Linked DNA regions of Homo sapiens. The protein of the gene in region 3 interacts with the protein of the main gene of each other region in a biochemical or structural test. Each region holds a gene or a part of one and is shown on either strand. Other genes may lie near its edges. The genes, in order: RALGPS1, CSAG1, TLK1, UBR2, PPIE, NPHP1 and C1orf87.

Region 1 (3,500 bases), on a different chromosome or scaffold from region 3:
CTACCTGGGACCATGGATAGGTTACTGAACATATCCCTTGAGCTGCAGTTTCCTCATCTGAAAAGTGGGAATAATTCAACTCACCTTGCAGGTGGTCAGAAGTCCATGAGGTAATGTACGCAGACTTTCATAGTTAGCCCTCATACTTAATTTATTATGGTAATTATTACCATGTCCTTCTCAACCCAGTCATGGGGCTAACAGGTCACCAGAGCCAGGGAGTTAGGGGCGCAAACCTCACTGTGCACAATACACAGACACTGAGGCCAAATCCTTCATGCTGGCCATGTCTTCAGCCATGTCTGGAGGAATGTGACCCTGGCCACTGTGGCACTCTTTAGTTTCTGTGGCTTGGGAAGGGAGGTCTTTAAGGGAGGTGACTCCAGAGGCTCGCCTAGCTCTGGCTATCTGGGTCAGGCCCTGGGGGTGGGAAAGAGTGACTCTACAAAGGGGCTCAGCTGCTTCCTGCAGAGAACACCAAATGCAGAGCAGATCAAGGGGGTGGCTGCCTGGCCATGGCTGGAGAACTTTCTTGGGGGGACCCATAAGGCCCAAGCCCACCCAGACCTCCAGGTCCTCCAACACAAGGCCCTACAGACCCACCAGTGGCCTACAGGTTCCCATGTCCTCCAGCCTGCTTGGGTCATCTTAATGTCCAAAATAATGACCCACACCCCCAGCCCGTATACTGTGGGAAGGCTGGCCCATCTGGCATTTTGGCAGATTCAGGAGGCAAGGGCACTTGCATCACCTCCAGTTCTGAGCTCCTGTGCTGGCTGAGTGCTCACTTCCCATGAGTTGTCTTCTCTGCTGTCCCCCCTCCTTCCCAACCCCACTCTGCACAGGCACCTTCTCCTTCATCCGCCCCCACCAATCCCTTTATTAAGCCTTAGCCAACTTTCTTATTCTCAATAACATTCCAAAATGTCACTTCTTTCCTCAGTGCCCCCGGGCAACTCCAAGACCCCACCCCTTTCAAATGCTGCCACTCTTTACTTCAGTGACAACACTGGATGTCAGGTGGGATCTCTCTCACAGCCACCCTTGCAGTGGCCATGCACACCTCCATTCACACTGGCCTTCCCACCAGGCCGGGGCCCTTCTCTTCTCTCAGGTCCTACCCGTCTCCTCTGATAATTCCCTGCCTCACTTTCCCCTTCTCTCTCTGGCTCCTTCCCCCAGCCTACAGGCAAGCTCTAGTCTCTCTTTCCCTGTAAGCCAAGGTCCTTCACTGGATCTTTTCCCAGCAAATGGAGGTCTGTGCTCCTCCAGTCACTCAGCTCTGACTTCTGTACCTAATGACACATCCACTGACCTCCTTCTTGCCAAATCAATGAAGGCTCGTCAGCCTCCTCCCAGAGCCCTTGGCACCTGGTGCTCGGGGTCACTCCTTCTCAAAATGCCCTCCTTCCTTGGCAGGCACTATGCCACACTCTCCTGCTTCTCCCTGTGCCTCTTCAATCACTGTCACCACCTCTTCCGTGAGATCCTTCTCTTCCTCTAACACCCCTCATGCTGGAGTTGTCCACACAGGACTCCCTCTTTGGCTCCTGTTTTTTCTTTGATTGGATAGCTGATGACTCTTAAATCTTGACTACAGTCCTCTTTTCTTTTCTTTTTTTTTGACACAGGGTCTGGCCCTGTCACCCAGGATGGAGCGCAGTGATGCTATGATGGCTCGCTGCAGCCTCGACCTCCCCGGCTCACCAGCTCAAGCAACCCTGTCAGCTCAGCCTCCTGAGTAGCTGGGATCACAGGAGGGTGCCACCAGGCCTGGCCCAGACCTCTTTTCTGAGCCTGAGACCCATACATCCACCTCTTGGCACCATCCCTCCATCTGCCCTTTCCTAAGATGCATCAAGTGCAGCACAGCTAAGGCTAAGCCTGCAACTCCTTCTCCTGTTTCCAGCCTTGGCTGGAGGCACTGTGGGTTGCCCAGTCGCCTGGCCTGGAATGGGAGCCCACCCTCGGCTCCTGCCACACGGCAACTTGCCTCTTCTCTCCTCCCTTTCCCTCCTCACTTGCTGCACAGTCATCATGGCCTCCAGACTCTGCACAGCCCCTCCCTGCCCACCTCTCTTGTCACTGACTGGTCTGGGCCCCCACATTTTATTGTCTTCCTGCCTCCAGTCTGATCTTCTAAAATCTAACCCAAGCACAGCTTCATAAGTATTTGAAAAACGTGAAGCTAACCATGTCACCGCCTTGCTTGAAATCATCCATGACATGGTGTTCAAAGTTCTTCCTGACCTGGCCATTTAAGCCACTCTTAAAATCCCAGTGGAGGCCGGGCGCCGTGGCTCACGCCTCTAATCCCAGCACTTTGAGAGGCCGAGGCGGGCAGATCACAAGGTCAGGAGATCAAGACCATCCTGGCTGACACGGTGAAACCCCGTCTCTACTAAAAATACAAAAAATTAGCCGGGCGTGGTGGCAGGTGCCTGTAGTCCCAGCTACTCGGGAGGCTGAGGCAGGAGAATGGCGTGAACCTGGGAGGCAGAGCTTGCAGTGAGCCGAGATCGTGCCACTGCACTCCAGCCTGGGTGACAGAGTGAGACTCCATCTCAAAAAAAAAAAAAAACAAAAAAAAACCCAAAAAACAAAAACAAAAAAACCTGATGGAAAAGAAAAAAGACAGAGTAGCCAAGACTATTCTGAAGAAAAACAGTGCAAGACTTGCCCTACTGGATGGCAGAACAAAACCTAAAGCAGTAGTATTCAAAGAGTGTGGTATTGGGCATGGATGCAGACACAGTTCAGTGAATACAAAGTGAGAGCCCGACATGCTTCCTGATGGTGGCGGCATTACCAGTCAGTGGGGAAAGGAGGAACTTTTCAGGATGAGGGGCAAAACCACTGGGTTCCATGTGGAAAAAGACAAAATTAGAGTCCTGCCTTATGTTAAGCAAGTGGATTAATGTCACAAATGTGAAAAGCAAAACTACTGGGAAAAAAATAGGAGACAATCATTATAATCTTGGGGAAAGGGAAGAAAGAAAAAACACAAATCCTAAAGGAAGAGATGAATAAATTTGACAACATTTAAATGTCTGTACCAAAACAACCGACCAAAAACGACATCAAAATCAGTGTTAAAAGGCGAATCACAGTCTGGGAGAAGGTATGTGTCACCCCTAAACCAACACAGGATTAGCTTTCAGATACACAGAGAACTTCAAATATCTGTAAGAAAGGACAAACCACACAGAGAGAACAAGCAAAAGATATGAAAGGCAAATTCAAGGAACAGAGTCTCCAAATGGCCAGTAACAATAAGGAAAGACGCTTAACCCCACTGGTAATAATGGAAATGCAAATGAGAGTAAAAGGAGATATCTTTTTATTACAACAGATGGTAAAAAAATAAAAAATTTAGCCTGACAATGTATTGCATTGGCAGAAGGGGAGGAACAGGAACTCTAGTTTGGGGCTTATATGAAGGTGAAATATTTGGAAAGCAATGAGCAGTGCTGAATAAAGGAAGATGCCCTGCCTTTTAT
Region 2 (3,738 bases), on a different chromosome or scaffold from region 3:
CAAGTGTGCATGAAATATTTCCCAGGATAGATGGTATTCTGGGCCATCAAACAAAGCTTACAAATTGAAAAAAAAAATAGAAATAATAAAAAGCCTCTTCTTAGACCATAATATAATTAAATTCAAAACCAAACACCAAGATATCTGAAAAATGCCCAAATATTGGAAATTTTAAAATATGCTCCTAAATAACCTATGGGTCAAAGAGGGAGTCTCAGGAGAATTTTAAAAATACATTAAGTTGAATGAAAATAAAAATATACATACAAAAATGGGATTCAGCTAAAGTGTTTCCTTGAGGGAAATGTATAGCATATTTTATGTTTATATTAGAAAATGAAATCTAAAATCAATAACCAAAACTTTCACCCTAGGAATCCAAAGAACAAAGAGCAATTTGAATTTAAAGAAATTGTAGAGGATCCCCCCATCCCTTCCCACACTCCCACCTCTTCCCCTTAAGCCCTACCCCCAACCTTTGAGACACACAGACACACACATCATTTTACAACATGTTCATTTTATTTCCATCACCATGGGGCATACCCTTTGGGGTGTAAAACGTACTCTACACCCTGTTGGCTATTTATCTGGGGTTAGACTTCTGGAGACTTTTCAGATAGACTTGAAGTCTCTGGCCTTGCCTGGGAATTACTGGCTGCCCAAGGAAGCACTGGAGAAGGCGGTGGTCTCCTTGCCCTTGTGGTCCTGCTATGGCGCATTTTGATTGAGTTCCTCGTTCGGCTGGTCAGAGTGGCTGGATAGTGTTGGCCCACTCCATTCCTCAGGTTTTTTTGAAGCGGTGGTCTTTTAGGGAGAGCCTTTTGTTCCTGGAACTTCCTTGACGGGTCCCTTTTCCCTTCTGGGTTGTCTTGGGAACCTGGAAAGCCAACAGGGAGATCACAGGAGGGCACTGGTTTGGGGAAGAGGATGGAGGAGGGGTGAGAACAGGGGTTTCATAGAGAAATGGTACAGGCTGGGGTGGGGGTTGTGCCAGGGGAGGACAGGGTAGGAGTCAGAGCTTGGGTGGGCCATTCACTTTGATAGGGCTTCTGGGCCAGGGATGAGAGGATGCTTTCCCCTTCCTCGCCTCTTTGGTGTTGATGGGTGGTTGTTGGAAAATGGGCTGGAGGCTCGTGGTTTCCTGGACATCTTCACCAGACCAGTGTCTCTGTACAGTCTACTCCAGTCCACCTGGTCTCCCCGAGCTTCCCCCAGGACAGTGAAGGCAGGCCAGCAGGCTAGAAACTCACACGACATTATTATGTTAGTCTTGTGGTAGAATTCCTTTTCCAAGAAACCTTGGTCTTTTAACACCTTCAACTAATTGGATGAGGCCTATCCACATTATGGAAGTTAAATTGCTTTACTTAAAGTCAACTGATTGTAAATGTTGATCACATCTACAAAATACCTTCACAGCAACATCTAGACTACTGTTTGACCACACAGCTGAGCAGTATAGCCTAGACAAGTTGACACATAATACTAGCCACTGCAAATATCTTGCACCGTACAAAAATGTGACTCAAAATGAACCGCAATCTTAAATGCCAAAATTACGGGCTTTTTTTCTAGGAGGAAACAAAAAAAAATTGTGTTACCTGAGGTTATGTACTAGTCAGCTCAGGCTAGAATAACAAAATGTCATTGACTGAGTAGCTGGAACAACAGAAATTTATCTTTTTTCACAGTTTTGAAGTCTGGAAGTCCCAGATCAAGGACTGGCGGGGTTGGCTTCTGGTGATGGCCTTATTCCTGGCTTGTAGATGGCCCTTTCTCAATATGTCCATTCTTGGCCCTTCCTCTGTGCATGTGCAGAGAGCGCGCGAGAGAGACAGCGAGCTCATGCAGGCACAAAAATGCTATCTTCTGTCTCTTCTCCCTTCTTATAACCACACTAATTCTATGGGATCAAGGCCCCACCCTTATGACCTCTTTTAACATTAATCACTTCCTTAGAAGCCTCATCACCAAATACAGACACCCTGGGGCTGAGGGCTTCAAAATATGAATTTGGTGGAGGACATAAGCATTAGCAAAGAATAGACACATAGGTTAATAAAACAGAATAGAGCTCAGAAATAGACCTGCACACATATAGTCAGGTGATTCACAACAAAGGCAATAATGGTGAAAGTACAGGTTTTCCAACAAAAGGTGTCGGAACAATTAGACACCTATACACAAATTATAATAACCTGGACATATCCTTACATATTCCATGAAAACTAACTCAAGATACATCATAGGTCTAATGAAAAATGCAAAAACAATACAACCTCTATAAGAAAACATGAGAGAAATCCACATAACTTTGAGTTTGGAGATGAGTTTTTAAATTCAACACCAAAAGCATGATCAAGGAAAGAAAAATTTGCCAAGTTGATTTTATTAAAATAAACATCATGTGCTCTTCAAAAGACAATGTTAAGAGAATGAAAACAGAAGCCACAGACTAGCAGAAAACATCTGCGGTACACATATGTGATAAAGAACTTGTCTCTACAATATATGCGAATTCTTAAAGCTCAGCGATAGAAAAAAATGAAAATAGTCAAAGATCTGAACACACACTACACAAAAGAAGATACACACATGGCAAATAAGCATAATAAATGTACTAAGCGTGTTTTGTCATTAGATAATTGTGTACTAAAATGAGATACCACTACACACCTATTAGTATGTCCAAAATCCATAAAAAAGCAAAACAAAGCAAACAAAACCAAGACCAATTGCCAGGGAAGATGTGGAGCAACAGAAACTCTCATTCATAGCTCGTGGAAATGCAACATGGCACAGCCACTTTGGAAGACAATTTGGCGTTTTCTTAAAAAACGGAACATAGACTTAGCGTAAGATTCAGCAGCCATACTCAATCAATTTACCCAATTGATTTGAAAACTTATGTCTACATAAAAATTTGTATATGAATGTATACAATAGCTTATTTCACAATCACCAAAAATAGCAGCATCCAAAATGTATTTCATTTGGTGAATGGATTATATATATATATATATACACACATACACACACACACGCATTAAAATATGGTACACCCAATGATACTACTACTCCTCAATGAAAAGGAATAAGTTACAAGCTGCACAAAGTTTTACATGACTCTTCAGTTCATTATGCTAAACGAGTCTAAAGAAACGAGTCTAGAAAGAAACGAGTCTAAAAAGGCTACATAGTATACGAGTCTATTTATATGACATTCAGGAAAAGGCAAAATTATAAAGATGAAAAACCTATCAGTGGCAGCCAAGGGGGTTATCTGACAAGCACAGGGGATTTATCAGGGCAGTGAAACTAGTATGGTAATACTGTAATGGTGGTTCCGTGCTTGCTTTCATCTGAATATTTGTGTTCCCACAAACTTCATCTGCTGAAATACCAAGGTGATGGTATTAGGTAGAAGGTGGGGTATTTGGAGAATGACTAGTTCATGAGAGCAGAGACCTCATGAATGGGATCAGTGTTTTTATAAAATAGTCCCCACAGAGATCCCTTGCCCCTTCCTCCATGCGAGGACATAGGGAAAAGGCAGGTGTCTAGGAACTAGGGAGCAGGACTCCACCAGACATGAAATCTGCCAGCACCTTGATCTTGGACTTTCCAACCTCCAGAATGTGAGAAATAAAGTTGTGTTGTTTATAAGCCACCTAGTCTACACTATTTTTGTTATGGAAGCCCAAACGGACTAAGACAATGGCAAGAGGCATTTGT
Region 3 (3,285 bases):
CATACAAATGACACTATGAGGAACTTCAGTTCACAAACAGTTCTTAACCACGTCTTGTGTAAAAAAAAAAAAAAAAAAAAAAGAAAAAGAAAACAAACACTCAAATGCTCTCAAACTTAAGTGTGCATCTGGAAGCAAATTCAAAGATATCATGCCAATCTTGGAGGAAAGTCAGTAAGTAATTATGCTTGAAGAAGGGGGTGTAGGGGATGCTGTCAGCCCAGCCATGTGTAGGTTTCCTGAAGAATTTGATCTTCTCATGTGTGGGAGAAGGTATGGGTCATTTGCCAGCTGGTGCACATCAAATCGATCTTCTTTTCGATATGCCAAACAGCGTCTTATAAATGCCTCAAAAAGAGAAAGGAAATGTTAGCAATTAATGATCTTTTTCCCTTCTAAATATCAATCAACTGAATCAGCAGAAGGATGGACACATTTAAGACATAAGTAGATCTCATTTTATTGGAAGTTCAAACCTTAAAAAAAAAATTCTGTAGCTAGAAAATTCTCACTCCAAATGCAACTCACTGCTTGAAGCCCCTGCAGTGGTTCACTTTACAGTCTAAATTACTACTGCAACCATTTGAACTTATACTGGAAAGTTGTTTCTGCTTACGAAATTCTGAAGACTTTTTTCTAGCATTTTTCTTCTGCTAAACAGTCCTCCCACCCTCATCCCATTTTGTTATCACTTCAGTTTAGCAAAGGGTAAGATGCCATTTTCAACCATTATTTTTTTTTCCTACTGACATAAAGACTTTCTTTAGATGAAGAGATCACTGAAGGGACACTTTCATTAGGGACATTGTTTCCCAGGTTAACCCTATGCATCATTACACTCCTGGAAAAGCTAAATAAACAGAATATAATCACTATTTTTTTTTTCTCAAACCAATTTTACTCAGTTTTTCTTTGAGAATAGCCTCTTACAAAAAAAAAAAAAACCTTTCCTGAAGTGTAACACATTTTTAGAAATGCACACAAATCGTTAAGTGCATAGCACAAAGTAAATACATCTATGTAACTGGCAACCAGATCAAGAAAAAGAACCTCTGAATCCCCCTCATGCCCAGTTCCAGGCACTGGCTCTGTCCCCAGTCGAACCTGGGTTAACCTTTATCTTGACTTCTAAAACCATAGTTGAGTTTTGATTGTTTGAATTTTATATAAATAGAATTATAAATTATGTTCTCCTTTGCCAGGCCTCTTTCACCCAATATTAAATTTTGAGGTTCATCCTTTTTTGGGGGGGGAGGGAACAGATAAAATATTCTCAGGAGGTAACTGGTAATTGTTTCCCTTTCTTAATGCTGACACTAGAAATTAATACATACCATTAAACAGAAGTATAATCACATTAAAAGGTAACTATTTTGCACTTTCTTTGCTTTGAAATTCATTAGAAGTATATTTTTCTCTAAAAATATACCTAGCTATTCTCATTTTACCATAGCTTACTGTTTATTGGAAGTCAATCTGATCCCTTAGAGGACTTATCTTTTTTATCTTTAACAAAGTTTCAGAGATCACTTTGAAAAATGATTAAGAGGGAAAAAAACATCAAGACTGATATGTTAGAGTTTGAGGAGTGGAAAGGCTATCAATAGCAAGGTTAAGGTTAAGTCTGCAACAAATAATGTACTTAAAGATGCCCACACCAAGTCAGGGAAAGTACTTGGCAAAGGTATCTTCTGTAGGGATACAGAATATAGAGATATTATATATTACATTAAAATATTAAAATTTATATCATATAATTGTATCATATTAATATTATATCCCCCCAACAACCCCTTAACCCTTCCTGGATTCCAGATCTCTAAAAGGTGACTGTGGTGCCTATTAAGAGCCTAAGGAGAGAACCAGGAATGGCTAAATGAGACTTTGCCTTTGGCAACTCCACTCCTCCTGGTCTTTTCAGTCAGTATTAAACAAACAGATCATGAATCAACTAAATTCATTTAATTTCTGTTCTCAATGAGGCTACAGACAGAAAATAAGACAAGATTTAGATGTCAGCACAGTTAAAATATTTTTAAAGGAGTCATATTTATCTTACAAAAATAATTCATTTTGCTTTCAAATAAGAATATTTATCTCTTTTGTTTTTTTGAGAATGGGTCTTGCTATGTCGCCCATGCAGGAGTGCAGTGGTGCGATCTCACCTCACTGCAACCTCTACCTCTTGGTCTCAAGCGATCCTCCCAGCTCAGCATCCTGAGAAGCTGAAACTAAAGGCACGGGCCCCTACACCGGGCTAATTTTTGTATTTTTAGTAGAGATGGGGTTTCACCATGTTGCCCAGGCTGGTCTCGAACTCCTGGGCTCAGGCAATCTGCCTGCCTGGGCCTCCCAAATTGCTGGATTACAGGTGTGAGCCACCGCGCATGGCCTATTTGGTTTTTTTGAGACAGGGTGTCACTCTGTCCCCCAGGTTTGAGTGCAGCGGTATCGTCATGGCTCACTGCAGCCTTGACCTCCCTGAGCTCAGGTGATCCTCCCACCTCAGACTCCCAAGCAACTGAGACTCTAGATGTGTGCCACCACGCCTGGCTAATTTTTGTATTTTTAGTAGAGACCGGGTTTCACCATGTTGGTCAGGCTGGTCTCAAACTCCTGACCTCAGATGATCTGCCCGCCTTGGCCTCCCAAAGTGCTGGGATTACAGGTGTGAGCCACCACGCCCAGCCTTATTATTACTTTTAATATTTCTTATATACTTATATATCTCAGTATTAACATAAGCAGATAAAATAATACATAAAAGGTAATGATGAGCCCAGATCTTGTGATTTTTCCCTAATTTTCAAAGTAGCAGCTGATGAACATAAACAATCAGAGACCATAGCTTAAAAGATAAAAACTATAGCAACCAGAGGCTGATGCAACTCCTTCTCTGAAAGTAAATCACCAGCCCCTGCTGGACAGATCCCCTGCAGCAGCGAGTCTTGTGACTTTACTTACTGGAAAGTACTTACCTTGTTGTCAGCACAACTGATGAAAGAAAAGTTACTTCACAAAACTCATTTACAAAAATTTAATACCTTGGCTTCACTGCTTACAACCGGTTTTACAGGGAACTGGACTTCTGTGGCTTTTAATATTGTATTTTCTTGAAGAATGTCTTGTTGAGATTGATTGTGACCAAATGGCTTAAAAAAAAAATTAAATGTTGAGATACTTTTCTCACAAAATATTTAAACACAGATATCATTTCTGTTTAAGCGAATTCCCAAAACCGAAAATCCAAATATCTTGTGTTCTAAAATCTTCCTCAGTTATTTG
Region 4 (3,500 bases), on a different chromosome or scaffold from region 3:
TATAAATTAGTATAATCTTCGAAATTTCCTAACACTCTAGAAAGAACTACTTTTAATTTGCTTTAATAGTTTTAATTTGCTTTAACACTAGAACAGTGCAAATGTCAAAGCATTAAGAAAATCCACTTATAGCCAGCTAATGCTTTTTCTTCAGAAGTAATAAGTTAAATAAAATTAGCAACTTTGTCTTTGGCCTGGAATGAAATTTATAAAGCACCTAGTTTAAATATCTTTTTTTTTTTTAAGACAGTCTCGCTTTGTCGCCCAGATTGGAGTGCAGTGGCGCGATCTCGACTCACTGCAAGCTCTGCTTCCTGGGTTCACGCCATTCTCCTGCCTCAGCCTCCCGAGTAGCAGGTAACTGCCACCACGCCTGGCTAATTTTTTTTTGTATTTTTTAGTAGAGATGGGGTTTCACTGTGTTAGCCAGGATGGTCTTGATCTCCTGACCTTGTGATCTGCCTGCCTTGGCCTCCCAGAGTGCTGGGATTACAGACATGAGCCACTGCGCCTGGCCTTTTTTTTTTTTTTTAAAAACAAACAAACAAACAAACAAAAAAACCACACAGGGTCTCGCTCCGTTGCCCAGGCTGGAGGGCAGTGGTGCAATCTCGGCTCACTGCAACCTCTGCCTCCCAGGTTCAAGCAATTCTCATGCCTCAGCCTCTTGAGTAGCTGGGACTACAGGCGCGTGCCACCAAATTTGGCTAGTTTTTTTTTTGTACTATTAGTAGAGATGGGGTTTCGCCATGTTGGCCAGGCTGGTCTTGAACTCCTGACCTCAGGTGATCCACCTGCCTCGGCCTCCCAAAGTGCTGGGATTACAGGCATGAGCCACCATACCCAGCCTAAATGACCATTTTTAAAGATGAAGCAGACCAACCTTTCATAAGTAGGATGCAAAGACTTTCTTTACAGAGAGAAGGCAACTCTAAAAGTGGGCTCTCAAACCTCCTTTCACGCTGCAGTGTGAAAGGCACTGGTTAAAGCAGTGCTCTGGGAATTCCCAAGACACAGTTCCTACTCTCAAGAAGTTTACTGGGTATCGCTGAAGCACACGCACACAGAGCACAACCTACAAGCAGAGAAATAAATGTGTCTGTGGTGGACAAAATCATGTGCGGACTGGATCTCCCTGCTTTACTCCCTCAGTTGCTGAAAGAGGGCCCTCAACTGTCCTGCACGGTAATCTGTATCCCAAGAATCTGCTTTCTGGGGAACCCGATCTGTGGTGGTATTACTATTCTAAAACAATTTGGCTCAAGGATTGCCTCTTACATAGGTAACTCTCCATCACTGTTCTCAGGAGATTCCACTCAGGCTCTATCAATAAGACAAAACAATTATTATTTCAGTGTGTCAACAAATGACCAGGACTTTGCAAGTGTACTGAAGGATGGAAAAGACTGTGAAATGCCAAAGTATGTAATGTTACATCACAAAGAAAAGCTTTTCTTTGAATCCCTGCTATTTATCAGCTATGTGATTCAGGTGCAACTTTCTGGAGTGGTTCCACATCTGCCAAGTGGGGAATTCCTGCCTAAGTTACCTGCCAAAGATACCATCCAAGTCCATGGAGTTATTTTTAGGTTTAAAAAATCTCAACGTATCACCAACCACATTAACTGGCAGTTGTTATTAAAAGGGAAGATGAGGATCTAGCTATGACTTACCTGGATCTTGAATAAATTTACTTCTGTTTTTTGATAATACAGTTGATCTCTGAACAAATGCTGCCAAGACCATTGCCCTGCTTTCCACTTTAACTTCTTGCTCCTCTTGACACAATATACATGTAACGAATTGTCTTTGTTCAGGAACCTGAGTTTGTGCGGGGCCCAGTGCTGTAAGTGTCATATCTGAAGCCACAGGGCTGCAATACAAAGGTTATGAATATAATTAATGATCCCAAAACTTTCTATATAATCACAAAATAGCAGACTACAGGTATGTGTGTGTGTGTGTAGTGTGTGTGTGTGTGTGTGTGTGTGTGTGTGTGTGTGTGTGTATATATATTTATTTATTTTTTGAGACAGAGTCTTGCTCTGTCACCCAGGCTGGGGTGAGTGGCACAATCTTGGCTCACTGCAACCTCCGCCTCGCAGGTTCAAGCAATTCTCCTGACTCAGCCTCCTGAGTAGCTGGGATTATAGGCATGCACCACCACACCCGGCTAATTTTTTTTTTTTGTATTTTTAGTAGAGATGGGGTTTCACCATGTTGGTCAGGCTGGTCTCGAACTCCTCACCTTGTGATCCGCCCGCCTTGGCCTCCCGAAGTGCTGGGATTACAGGCGTGAGCCACCACGCACAGCCAGGAATGTATATATTTAACACATGGTTTTGATAACTTGGATTGTCAAGTCTTTGGTATGTATCAAAACCATCTCCTTTAATCCTCACAGTAATCTAATCTTCAACACAGATGTCATACGCTCTAGGTAACTGAGTGTAGTGTACTCATTCTTTCATGAATGTCCAAGGTCTTCTGCAGAAAATACCCTACCAGGTGTACACAGGACTTACCATACCTACATTCAGAGACTTCTAAGATTAAATCTTCTAAATGGAGGTCACAAAATTTACCTATGAATTCTACTAAATTACTTTAGGATTAAAAGTATACTTACAAGGAGAAAACGCAACACTGCCCCTAGTTGGGAAAAACTCGTCAAGACATTAATTTTTTTTTTTTTTTTTTTTACCTATGATCAAGAACAGCAGAGGTTGAGGCATCCAGTTCTAATGTCTGCTGAAAGAGTTCTTTGTTTTCATCAATAAAATGCCGCTGCATTTCAGACATCTGAGCCATGATCTTTTCTCTGCGCAGTCTGGCAATCTCTGCTTTTCTCTTCCTCTCAGCTTTGTCTTTGTCCCTTGAACTCTGAAATTATGCTCCATTCAATTAGACAATTAGATGCTAAAACGCACATTTTTTTCCAAAGCAGAAATATCTTCACTGTAAATACCAATTAAAAAACTATTCTATAATCTCACTTATTTAAATAAGAGAAAAGACTCTTAAACTGACTTGTTTTAAAGAAAAAAAGCAGACAAAAAATTGCTACAACAAATAGAGATAAATAGTGGCATATTTCTTGGAATTTAAATGTTGTGAGTAACTGGCAACTTAATGTAGATAAATTTATTTTGTTCATACTGAACTTGCTGTAATTTTTTAGTATTATCACACTTTTTACTGTTTATACCTCTTCCATTATGGTTCCTTCTGTCTCTGCCACGGGACTGGTAGGTGAACTCTCCCTCATCTTTTTAACAGCATTAAAAGTCTACAAAAAAAAAAGTATCAGTATCCTGTATGAAATATGATCACAATGTACACATAACAAATATTCAATATTTCTCACAAAAAGCAGAGGAATGTGGAAATTTTACCTTCAATATCCACCGAATCATGTCTTTGTGGACTTCTAGGTAGGGAGCATTTTGTAGTGTTTCCAGCATAGCTAGTATGCTAGGAGAATTTTTTGGCGCTTCACC
Region 5 (3,500 bases), on a different chromosome or scaffold from region 3:
CTGTTTCAATAAATGACTCCACCATCCACTTAGCCGCTTGATCAGAAACTTAGGAGTCATTGTGGACACACACACACATACATACATGTACACATACACACACAGACACACACATATACATGTACATTCTCTTACGTGACAAATGTCCATGTTACCAGGCCTCACTGTGTCATAGCTGTCATTTTGAATGGCTCTTTTCCACTGATTGTGAGCTCCACCAGAGCTTGGACTATGTTCTGCTCATCAGTGTTCCCAGGGCTTAACAGGGACCTGGTTGTCAAGTAGACACTTAATTGTTAAATAAATGAATTAATGAAAGAACAGACCAGTATAAAGTGATTGAAACACCTCACTTACCATTTCACTGACTATTAACTGAATCCAAGATAAGGTGGCCGCATTTGCATGTGATCTGTGCATCCCCGAGTCTGAGCCTGACTGGCTGAAGGGCTGTCAACAGCCTGCACAGACGTCCTTTAAGGGCTGGTAGCCAGGGTTCGGGGAGCTGATGGTTGTTCTCTCCCTCAGGTCTACTATCCATGGCCAACTCTGGCCCAAACACCAATGGCTCTCAGTTCTTCCTGACATGTGACAAGACAGACTGGCTGGATGGCAAGCATGTGGTGTTTGGAGAGGTCACCGAAGGCCTAGATGTCTTGCGGCAAATTGAGGTATGTGGCCAGGAATGGGCCTCCTCCTTACCCAGGCCCTAGGAGCACAGCCCTGTGTGAGGGCTGGAGAGTCTCTGTGGCCTGAGAGAGATGGCCAGGGGCTGTGTCCAGCGGGAGGGGCTGCTGCTGCCCAGGTTCCGGGGTGGAAGTGGGCAAATGGGCAGGCAGGGGTTGGTATCCCTAAACCACTGTTAGTCTCCGGCCTTACTCCCTCACTTCTATTCTGCCACAAAGGCCCAGGGCAGCAAGGACGGGAAGCCAAAGCAGAAGGTGATCATCGCCGACTGTGGGGAGTACGTGTGAGGCGGCACTCTCTCTGCTTCCCCCTCCGCTCTTGACCCTGCATATCCAGGAAGGAACTGCCAGCCTCAGAGGAGGCAGCACCGAGGGTGCCTGTTTGAAGCAAGCAGCATTTGGGATATGTGCCCTTCCTCAGGGTCTGCTTGGAGCAGCTCCTCTGCAGGCACAGCCTGGACTATTCCCAGGCACAGCTGTGGGCCCAGGAGCCAGCTCAGGTGCTCCCCTCCACCATGGGCAGGCTGTGCAAAAAGCCACTGGCTTTTCTCAGCATTTGCTGCTGGGCCTCTCCTGGGACTACCAGTGTGGCTCTTACGTGTTTTCTTTGCTAAAATAAACCCTAGTTCTTATATTGCTCTTCCTGCTAGTTCTTGGGAGTTGTCAGAGATTGTGTCTGTGGCTAAGCTGGACCTCTGAGGCAGGCTGGTGAGTGGGGAGAGCAGAGCATCTTTTTCACAGCTTTCATTTCCTCCCTTGGGCCGATCCCCTTAGATGTCAGGTGATGTATCTTCACACCAGGCATCGATGTCAGGGCAACGGAAATTAAAGACTGGAAAGCTCCGGTCTTCTGCTGCCTCTGCTCCTAAACCCAGCTGCCGGCCTTACAGCCAGCAAGTGTACTCTCAGTGGTTCATTTGTTTATTTGTTCACTTTCACCCTACAGATTTTAAAAAATGAAATTTTTATAACTCAAAGTGCCTTCTCTGTGCCAAGTACTATGCCTATTTGTCAGGAGACAGGAAGCCAACAAACTACATGTGCCTAATCCAGCCCACTGCCTGTTTTTATGAATCAGGTTTTATTGGAACACAGCCACGTCCATTTATTTACATATTGTCCATGGTGGTTTCTTACTGCAGTGGCAGAGGTGCGTAAGGGGCTATAGACACAATACAGGCTATGGTCCCTGTATTAGGGTTTTCTAGAGAAGCAGAACCAATAGGGTGTGTATATATGTAGAAAGAGATTTATTTTAAGGAACTGGCTCAAGCAGTGGTAGGAGCTGGCAAGTCTGCAATCTGCACAACAGACCAGCAGGCTGGAGACTCAGGAAAAAAACTGATGTTGCAGTTCAGCTCTGAGGCAGTTTGGAAGCAGAATTCTTCCTCCAGTGATCTCAGTCTTTTTTCTCTTAAGAATTTCAACTGATTGGATGAGGCCTACCCACATTATGGAGGGTAATCTGCTTTACTCTCTACTGACTTAAATATTAATCCATCTAAAAAATAGGCCAGGCATGGTGGCTCATGCCTATAATTCCACCACTATTGGGAGGCTGAGGCAGGAGGATCACTTGAGCCCAGGAGTTCAAGACCAGCCTGGGCAATGTAGAGACCCCCATCTCTAGGGGGAGAAAAAAAAGCCAGGTATGGTAGTGCACACCTATAGTCCCAGCTACTCAGAAGGCTGAGGTGGGAGGATCGCTTGAACCTGGGAGGTTGAGGCTGCAGTCAGCCATGGTCATGCCACTGTACTCCAGCCTGGGTGACAAGAGGGAGACCCTGTCTTGAAAAAAAGAAACCATCATCACAGCAACATCTAGACTAGTGTTTGACTAAAAACTGGATACCATGGCCTAGCCAAATTGACACACAAAATAGACCATCACAGTCCCAAGGCCTAAAATACTTACTATCTGAGCCTTTACAAAACAGGATTGCCAGCCACTGAAGAGAACAAATGGTCCCACCCCCTGCTGAGCTCACAGTCTGGCTCTCCTGTGTGCAGCCACTTCTTGGAGCTGGCTTCTCTCCACTCCCCCTCCAGATGCTGGTCAGCCAGGCGGTTATAAAGAATCTCATCTGCTGAAGGCTTTTAGCAGGGACTGAGTCCTGTAGCTGTTGGACACCTCCTGTGGGTTGGGTCACTCAGACCATTCAGAATCCACTGAGCTGAGCTTTTGCATCTTGGATTGAGATCTGGATGAGCCAGGAGGCAGGAGAGGCTAGGTGGTCCTCATGACCCTAGGATAGCTCTTGCTGAGGGATGGTGGCATTCTGCCCTACCTCTGGCTCCCATGTGCCGACTGGACTTTGTGAGCTCCAGCTGCTACAGTTGACTGAGTTCAGGCTCCATGTAGCTGGGATATACTACATGGTTACCCCTCACCCCTATGGAGCTTCCAAAAGAGACCCTCCCTCAAAGCACAGCCCCTTCTCTGAGTGCAAATAATGGCCATCAGAGGTCAGTCACAGGTGTTAGGCAGGCATCTATGAAGCTGGGGATGATAGCACTGACTTCAGTGCTTGGACGAGAACCAGGAGAGAGTGTGTAGAAAAAGCACAGCCAGCCTCCCATAAAAGGACAGACTCCTGTGACAACCTTGTCACTCTGTTCCTCCCTGATACTCTGGGGAGGTGGAGGCCAGTGGGCAGTTCTGAAAGCTCAGCAGGTTTGGAGCCATTGGGTGTGGACTCCTCTCCCAGTGTTCCTCCTGGGTGTTCACAGATGTTATTGAATGCACACTGGAACCCTGCACAGGTAAACTGAGGCTTTATTGGCGTGACTGCCAAAGGTCACACAGGGTGGTTT
Region 6 (3,500 bases), about 61 Mb from region 3:
AATATTGATATGTCAAAATAGTATTTTTGATATACTGGATAATATAAAATATATTATTAAAAATAATTCTACCTGTTTCTTTTTACTTTTTAAAAATGTGTGTAATGAAAAACATGTATTTGTTCTTTGTCACTGATTCCTGGCACAGAGCTCCTGAAACCCTTGGAATTTCCTGAATGATAGGAGTATGTTTTCTTACTCATCAAGAGTCCCCTTCAGTCACTCCTGAGTTTATGTTAATGAGGTAATTCTAGGTGGGCACCTAAACAGCTTCAGGAAGGGGACAGGTTACCAGAAAAACCAACCCAGGTATTAGAGGTTAGAACTTTCAGCCCCACCCTCCAACCTTCAAAGAGGGGAGAGGAGCTGGAGACTGAGTTAATCACCAATTGCTAATGATTTAGTTAAACATGGCTAATGAAACCTTCAGAAAAACCCCTAAATGATGGGGTTCCAGGAACTTCCAGGATGGTGAACACAGCGAAGTGCTGGGAAGGTGGAAGGCCCAGAGAGTGCATGCCAGCCACCCCCAACCAATACCTCACTCTATGGCTGTTCCTGAGTTGCATCCTTTATAATAAACTGGTAAATGCAAGGAAAGTGTTTTCCTGAGTTCTGTGAATCATTCTAGTAAATTACTGAACCCCTGAGGTGATGGTATGGGAACTCGTGAATGTATAGCCAGTCAGTCAGAAGTATGGGTGGCTCTTGGGACTTGTGACTGGCAACGGAAGTGAGCAGCAATCTTGTGGGACTGAGCCTTTAACCTGTGGGGGTCTGTGCTAGCTCCAGGCATTAGCATCAGAATCGAATTGAATTGCTGACACCGGTTGGTGTAGAAGAACTGATGTAATAACACATATTTGGTGTCAGAGAAAAACCACATACTTGGTGTCAGAAGTGGCATCAGCAAAAAGATATCTCAGTGTGGCTACTGAAAAATTTAAATTACATGTGTGGTTTGCATCATAGTTCTACTGGACAGTGCTGATCCAGACAGAAATCTATATATCTTGGCACAGAAAATGACCATGTTATTTTATGAAATAAGAAAATACAAGCTACAAACACACATGTATAGTATGTTCACATTTTAGTAAGGGGATCACATATTTGTGGAAGTTAACACAAAGTTAACTGCAGTTATGTTTTACAATAAACAATAGACACCTATTATTTGTTATGATCAGCATTAATCCACAAAGCATCCCCTCATTGTGAGATCACGTTCCAGGGCTCACATGCGTAAGAGCACTTCACAGGTCCCCAGGACCATTAATACACAATGTTTTTCCCAGGTCCTGTCCCTCCAAAATTAAAGCAAATTCTATATCTCAAGTCATTCACTAGTCAACTGACAAAAGAACACAGCTAAATGTTTTATTAAAAGCGAAAAAAAAAAAAGTCTTAGAAAAGGAAGGCATAAACCAAGACTAACCTCTAGGTAGGTTCTGGGAACAAGACCTTCATTTCCTTTGGCATCCTTAGCTATCCACCAACCATCAGGTTTTTTTTCAATTACAAGGAGAATTTCCCCTTTCTTAAAGCAAAACAAAGTAAACCATTTTAAATAAAATTCAATAATCATGAGTATATGTCAATACCAATGATTCAAAATATGTGCTGAAAAAAAGGCAAAATCTTTTTTTAATCCAATATTTATCCTAAGGTTTATCAAAAGCTTCCCTATCACCCGACCCCTATGTATTCTGCCTAACTCACCTAAAACCATAAATGTGACATAGTTTAATGAATCATTCCTTTTGGTTACCTAACATACACTTGAGCCATTTATGCAAATGGGAACCATTTTTCACAATCATTTTTAAGGCCCCATACTTATTCCAAAAATTCAATTACTGCGTAAAATATTTTTGAATGTTTTAATATCTCTGGAAAAGTGTCTTTCAGAAGCAGCATATAAATTCCCAAAGAATATCAATTCCATTAAAGTTAAACCCTATTTTTGAGCAAAAATAGTATTTACTGAATATAATTACCCACTTAATTCACCAGATATGTTTTGAATAACACTCACTCATTTATAAAAATAAAATTCATCTTTGAAGACAAAAGCATTTCCACCACTAAGGACACTACAAAAGCAAACACTTAATTAAAATATACATTATTGTCTAATATTGATACCATTTTCCAGGAGAATTTGAAAAAAAAATCTATAAATCAAACCATATAATTATTTGCATAATATTCTTATGTATTTTATTATTAATCAGTTACTAAACTTTGAAGTTTAATATAAGAACTAAAATTCATATATTCACTTAAATTTCTTTGGCTCATTTCTCTAGCAGAAAACACAGGCTCAAAATCACAACTTTAAAAATCACAACTTTATTGTTCTGTCCCACCTGCCACTTATTTATGCCCAGGCCAACCAAGCATGGATGTAAGCCCCTCTCATATCTAAGCTAACAGGAAAGACTGCTACAAAATGGCAGGAAGTGCTCCCTTCTACCTCCACCTATGGACATTGCCTAACTCACTTGAATGAATTTATACATGACATTCAATAACAAATTATAAAATTTTACCCCTAAATTAGGAATTCTCAACATTAAAGCTACTTTCAAAAATCTTTAGAAGAGGTAACTTTAGTAACACAATCTCATATTACTACTGCTTGTAAATTGTAATTATTACTTATTTAAATAGATTGTTATAAAACTGCATTTTAAGAATCTGTAATACAGGTGTACAGGCAGAGTTTTCTTATTCTGTTAGGTATGGACATCGACCCTTAGGTTAGGTTTCAGTCTTATTCTACCTACCTTAAATGTAAGATCTCCAACTTGCTGAGCAGTAAAATCTCCAACAGCGATGTATTCTTCACCGGTTGACCATTTGTGAGATTCATTTTCCTCTTTCTCTTCCTCTTCCTCCTCTGCATCTTCTTCCTCCCCACCACTGTCTTCACTATCTTCACTTTCACTTTCTTCCTCTTCTTCAGTAGGTGCCCCAACTCTACAAAAAGTGTTTCTGAGTAGGACTACTTGAAATAATATACAAGAACAGACCAGCTATGAGTGTAACTTCTACATATACATGAATATCCCATATTTGGAGCTGGCAAATAAAAGAAATAAGGGAAAATACAAAGAACAGTTTCTACCATCTAGCTAAGACCGTGTGCCTGGAGAGACTGAGGCGGAGAGGGAGCTGAGTCATGTATGTGAGATGGCAGAGCATCACTGGACTTGAGGCCAGGAGACTCCGAATTCAAGTCTTGGATTCATCCATTCAGAAAATGCTGTTGAAGCATTATTATGAAGTACTTAGAGCATAGGCTCTGCTAAATTTAAATTCTGGCTCTATTCCCTCTTTGCTGGGTGACCTTGAGTAGGCTTCTTTTAAGCTCTCCATTTCTCATTGGTAAAGTGGAGATAATAATAGAACCTGCCTTCTAAGATTGTCATGAGGATTAAGATGAGTTACTACTTGCAAAGTGTTTAGAACAGTGCTTGCCCATAGCAAGCTTT
Region 7 (4,049 bases), on a different chromosome or scaffold from region 3:
AATAATATAGTTTTCCAGGTAGGAGATCTGAGCCAGGTGTCCAAACTAATTCTATTTACTTTTCTTGACAGTGACAGGGATTTGACATATCTCAAAATAATCGCTTACCATATCACAGTGTCTTAGTTTCCTCATCTACAAAACAGACATAAACTGTGTCCTAGGCATAGAATATAAAAGGGACATCAAACATTTCAGAGAAAGAGGTTCGATTTTTTGTTACATTTTTTATATCTATAGAAAGACTTCTATAATAATAGCAGGATTATTTACTAAGCATGTTATTTATAATAGACACTGGAAAGGTGCTTTGCATACTTTTTCTCATTTAATCCTCACAATAACCCTATTACTAGATAGGTGTTGTTTTATCCCCACTTCATATATGTAGAATCTAAGGCCAAAGATGTTAATTCATTTTCCCAATGTCAAAAAGGCAAGAAAGAATCAGACCTAAGATTCAATTTCACACCTCTCAGCACTGTAGGGATCCCAAATGTATGAATCACGTGCTGCAAACCTCAGTTCCTGTGCAGTGGCAGACATTACTAACTGATTATAGCAGTCACTTTGGAATCCCTCTAGACCTTACAATACTGATAGTAGGGAAGTAGAACTAATGTGCCTTTCTAAAGCCTTATTAAAGCCTGTACTTCATAACAGCAGTCTTGGTGACCTACATTCAGAGATTTTGATTCAGCAGACCTTGAGCTGGTTCCTGAATCTGTATTTTTGAGGTCTCTCCCAGTGATTCTGATGACAGCTAGGTTTAGCAAAAATTTCTTCTTGCACCTATGTTCAACAATACCATATCTTTGTATATTTGTTCAGTCTATGAGTTTCTGAAATAGAAGATAGAGCTAAGGAAATAATCTTAGGAAGGAAAAGTAATTTTTGACTAGCTATTACTTATGGAACGCCTACTATATGAAAGACAGATCTAGTACCTTCCCTCCTTTTTTGAGCCACTGAAACTCTGTAAGAAAGAGCTAGTCATACTGTTCTGTGCTGAAACATCTGGTGAATATTAGAAATACAGGAGTGTCATCTCTTAAATGTGACTCTGATGGGTTTGGAATAGAAGAAAGAGATCTTAGCCATGATCTGAGAAGCCCAAGCTTAGAGGAGTATCAAATACAAACAGGAGTAAGTGAAAACCTTACAATTTATGATTCTGTATTAATCCTACTCCTGTAATTCACAACAAATTGACTATTAAACCTCCCCCACTCTCCCCAAAATTAGTACATGTGGTAGATTACAAGCCCGATGAGAAAAGGCAGCAGTGCTCCATTAATATTTATAAATGTCGCAATGCTCATATTTCCCATCTATTTGGAAAATCAGCCCAAGTAATTAAGGAGTATGGGGAATTATAAAGATGAAAAATATCAGGAAAACAGTGCACATGGAAGTTATCAACACGATTTTACCTCTACTGTTGCATCTTAATGACTTCGTTTTCCATGGATGGCATTTTTTAAGTTTAAATTTCTGGGTGAAAACAAAACAATAAAACTTCATTATCATCCAAGCAACATAGATATTTTTCAAATATGGACTTACATCTTTGGCTTCTCCACGAGGTATTGAAAGTGTTTACTTCCAATGATTTTCACCATGATCTCAGGCATTGCATCTGATCCACGGGGAGTCTTCCAGGCTGAAGACATGATTCCTTTCAAAATCCCTTCAGATCCCTAGGGGTGAAAATAAGTAAATTGTTCCTCTTGATTTTCCATTAGGGAACTGCATCATCCTTGCCAATAACAACAAGCAATAATAATAGCAGGACAAAGTGTTTCACCTATATTACCTCACTTAACACTCCTAACAAAGGCATGAGAAAGATATTTTTAACTACTATTATCATTTTTGTTTTACTGTTGAGGAAACAAGCAAAATGTAGCTATATGACTTACTCACATCACATCACATCACCAGTAATTAGCCGACTTGGGAATCTCACCTAAGAGGTCTGTACAGCAGATCTACTGAATCATTAGGTGACTCTACCTTCCTGTACTACAAGACATAGGATGGAATTCCAGTGAGGTCAGAGCAGAAACAAGGGCATTAGTGGGACATATGAAGAATCCATATTCAGTTCTGATGTTTAGTTTCCCCATTTATGAGATCAGGGTAATTCTAGGTCTGTTCTCAGGGACTTGAGGGTGAATCCAAGGAGATAATGCATCTGAAGGGAGACTGTACACAAGACAGACAGACTTTTGTTGTTATCACTGATCTCTTTCTACAACAATACAATGAATCTGAAATTGAACTCCTGCACAAGGTGTTTAAACAGAGTGATGCCAAGGGAAAATCAGAAGTTCAGTAAATCTGGCCACAGCTGAACACTCCCTTTTAGAACCACCCAGAGGCTGAAAGGCCTTTAGAAATCATTCTACTCCAAAGGCTCCTTCACAGATTGGAAAACTAAGGCCCAGAGAGGGTGTGTTATTTGACAAGGGTCACAGAGGAATGAAGGACGGGACTGTTTCCAGTACTTGGGTCTGATGTCTAGGCCAGGGTTCTTCCCAAAAGTCCAATACTAAAGACCTGTGCTAGGGCAGCCCCTCATCCCGGGGACCTGCAGCCTCTTTGCACCTGTCTGGAATCTTCCAGACCCGGAACTCGTGATCCTCAAATCCCCTCCCTGCCCAGCAGCTGCGTGTCGGCCCTGATTGCCCGGAGAGAACAGAGTCGGGGGGCTTACCGCTAGGGCAGCGTCCCCACCCTGGCAGCTCAGAGGTGCGCGGTCCGTGCTTCTCCCCAGGAAGCTGACACTCTCAGACCCGGGGACGGGACGGGGCGTGGGGACCGAGCCCAGGAATCCGGCCAATCACAGGGCCCGCATCGCGGGCGGCGCCTGTTCCGCCCTGGTCGCTAAGGACGCTGAAGGCTGTTTCTGGGCGGGGACCAGGTTTTTCTCCACTGCCTAGGCAATGGACCCAGGCTCTGGCTGCCAACGGGTGAAGAGCCTAGGTGTTTTTGATCTGTGCCTTCTCTGTTCCTCAGAGATATGCGGGCGTCCTTCTAGAAGCCCATCTCGCTCACCTGTGTGGTCACCCTTGTCCCGCCCTTCCTCCGAAGGCTTCATTTCCCTTTGTGAGTTTGCACATAGTTGAGATTCCAACACAGTAGGTTCAAATCCAGACGTCTCCACTGTATGGCTTGAGTAAATCCCTTCTTTTCCCTGAGATTGTTTCCTCATCTGTGAAACGGGGCAAAATAATAACACTGTCCTAACTGCGATTTGGTGACTAAATTAAATAAGAATATCGGCCGGGCTCAGTGGTTCACCCCTGTAATCCCAGCACTTTGTTAGGCCGAGGTGGGCAGATCACGAGGTCAGGAGATTGAGACCATCCTGGCTAACATGGTGAAACCCCGTCTCTACTAAAAATACAAAAAATTAGCCGGTCGTGGTGGTGCGCGCCTGTAATCCCAGCTACTCAGGAGGCTGAGGCAGGAGAATTGCTTGAACTTGGGAGGTGGACCTTGCAGTGAGCCAGGATGGTACTACTGCACTCCAGCCTGGGCAACAGAGCGAGACTCCATATCAAACAAACAAAGAAACAAAAAAACCAGAATATTATAGATTGATAATAATAACGTTGAGTACTGTCTCTATGCCAGATCCCTATGACAAGCTGGATAACTCTCACCTCACAAGTTAATAGTTATAAACAAAATAGTTTTACTTTATTTTAAAGAGAAAAGAAACAAGTTGGGGTATTGATAAACTACTCCAAATCCTGCAAAAGCAAGTACAGAGCTAAGATTAGAATATAGATCTGCATATCCTACATTTCCAGACAGTTGTTATTATGCTAAAAGAAACTTCAGCTGATGCAGGCAAAGACACTTTAGATTGATTCCCAAACGGTATTGTTATTTGCATCAACATAGGCAGCAGCAGCTCCAGCATCTGTTCCCCTGTCTCCTAACCTCTAGCTGTACTGTGCTTTACAGGTGAATATATCACCCACTGGCACATGCAGCCAGAGGTGGACAGCACACTCAGCTCCCCTCCAGGGGCTCAC

The links.
Region 1: the proteins of TLK1 (region 3) and RALGPS1 form a complex in vitro, tested with the Homo sapiens proteins (one large-scale study listed by BioGRID).
Region 2: the proteins of TLK1 (region 3) and CSAG1 form a complex in vitro, tested with the Homo sapiens proteins (one large-scale study listed by BioGRID).
Region 4: the proteins of TLK1 (region 3) and UBR2 form a complex in vitro, tested with the Homo sapiens proteins (one large-scale study listed by BioGRID).
Region 5: the proteins of TLK1 (region 3) and PPIE form a complex in vitro, tested with the Homo sapiens proteins (one large-scale study listed by BioGRID).
Region 6: the proteins of TLK1 (region 3) and NPHP1 form a complex in vitro, tested with the Homo sapiens proteins (one large-scale study listed by BioGRID).
Region 7: the proteins of TLK1 (region 3) and C1orf87 form a complex in vitro, tested with the Homo sapiens proteins (one large-scale study listed by BioGRID).

The regions. Positions count from the first base shown.
Region 1 is NC_000009.12:127,190,782-127,194,281, reverse strand, and holds part of RALGPS1 (ras-specific guanine nucleotide-releasing factor RalGPS1), read right to left. Parts: intron 1-3,500.
Region 2 is NC_000023.11:152,726,984-152,730,721, forward strand, and holds the end of CSAG1 (chondrosarcoma-associated gene 1 protein), read right to left. Parts: intron 1,242-3,738; coding exon 1,091-1,241; coding exon of another isoform or gene 1,040-1,090; intron 881-1,039; coding exon 811-880; 3' UTR 501-810; downstream 1-500. UniProt on the Homo sapiens protein: May play an important role in maintaining centrosome integrity during mitosis.
Region 3 is NC_000002.12:170,993,609-170,996,893, forward strand, and holds part of TLK1 (serine/threonine-protein kinase tousled-like 1), read right to left. Parts: intron 3,153-3,285; coding exon 3,045-3,152; intron 349-3,044; coding exon 172-348; 3' UTR 1-171. UniProt on the Homo sapiens protein: Rapidly and transiently inhibited by phosphorylation following the generation of DNA double-stranded breaks during S-phase. This is cell cycle checkpoint and ATM-pathway dependent and appears to regulate processes involved in chromatin assembly.
Region 4 is NC_000006.12:42,658,029-42,661,528, reverse strand, and holds part of UBR2 (E3 ubiquitin-protein ligase UBR2), read right to left. Parts: coding exon 3,396-3,500; intron 3,290-3,395; coding exon 3,209-3,289; intron 2,884-3,208; coding exon 2,705-2,883; intron 1,874-2,704; coding exon 1,674-1,873; intron 1-1,673. UniProt on the Homo sapiens protein: E3 ubiquitin-protein ligase which is a component of the N-end rule pathway.
Region 5 is NC_000001.11:39,752,382-39,755,881, forward strand, and holds part of PPIE (peptidyl-prolyl cis-trans isomerase E), read left to right. Parts: intron 1-528; coding exon 529-671; intron 672-905; coding exon 906-974; 3' UTR 975-3,500. UniProt on the Homo sapiens protein: Involved in pre-mRNA splicing as component of the spliceosome. Combines RNA-binding and PPIase activities.
Region 6 is NC_000002.12:110,167,014-110,170,513, forward strand, and holds part of NPHP1 (nephrocystin-1), read right to left. Parts: intron 2,986-3,500; coding exon 2,793-2,985; intron 1,541-2,792; coding exon 1,439-1,540; intron 1-1,438. UniProt on the Homo sapiens protein: Together with BCAR1 it may play a role in the control of epithelial cell polarity. Involved in the organization of apical junctions in kidney cells together with NPHP4 and RPGRIP1L/NPHP8. Does not seem to be strictly required for ciliogenesis.
Region 7 is NC_000001.11:60,070,971-60,075,019, forward strand, and holds the start of C1orf87 (uncharacterized protein C1orf87), read right to left. Parts: upstream 2,801-4,049; 5' UTR 2,720-2,800; intron 1,701-2,719; 5' UTR 1,674-1,700; coding exon 1,567-1,673; intron 1-1,566.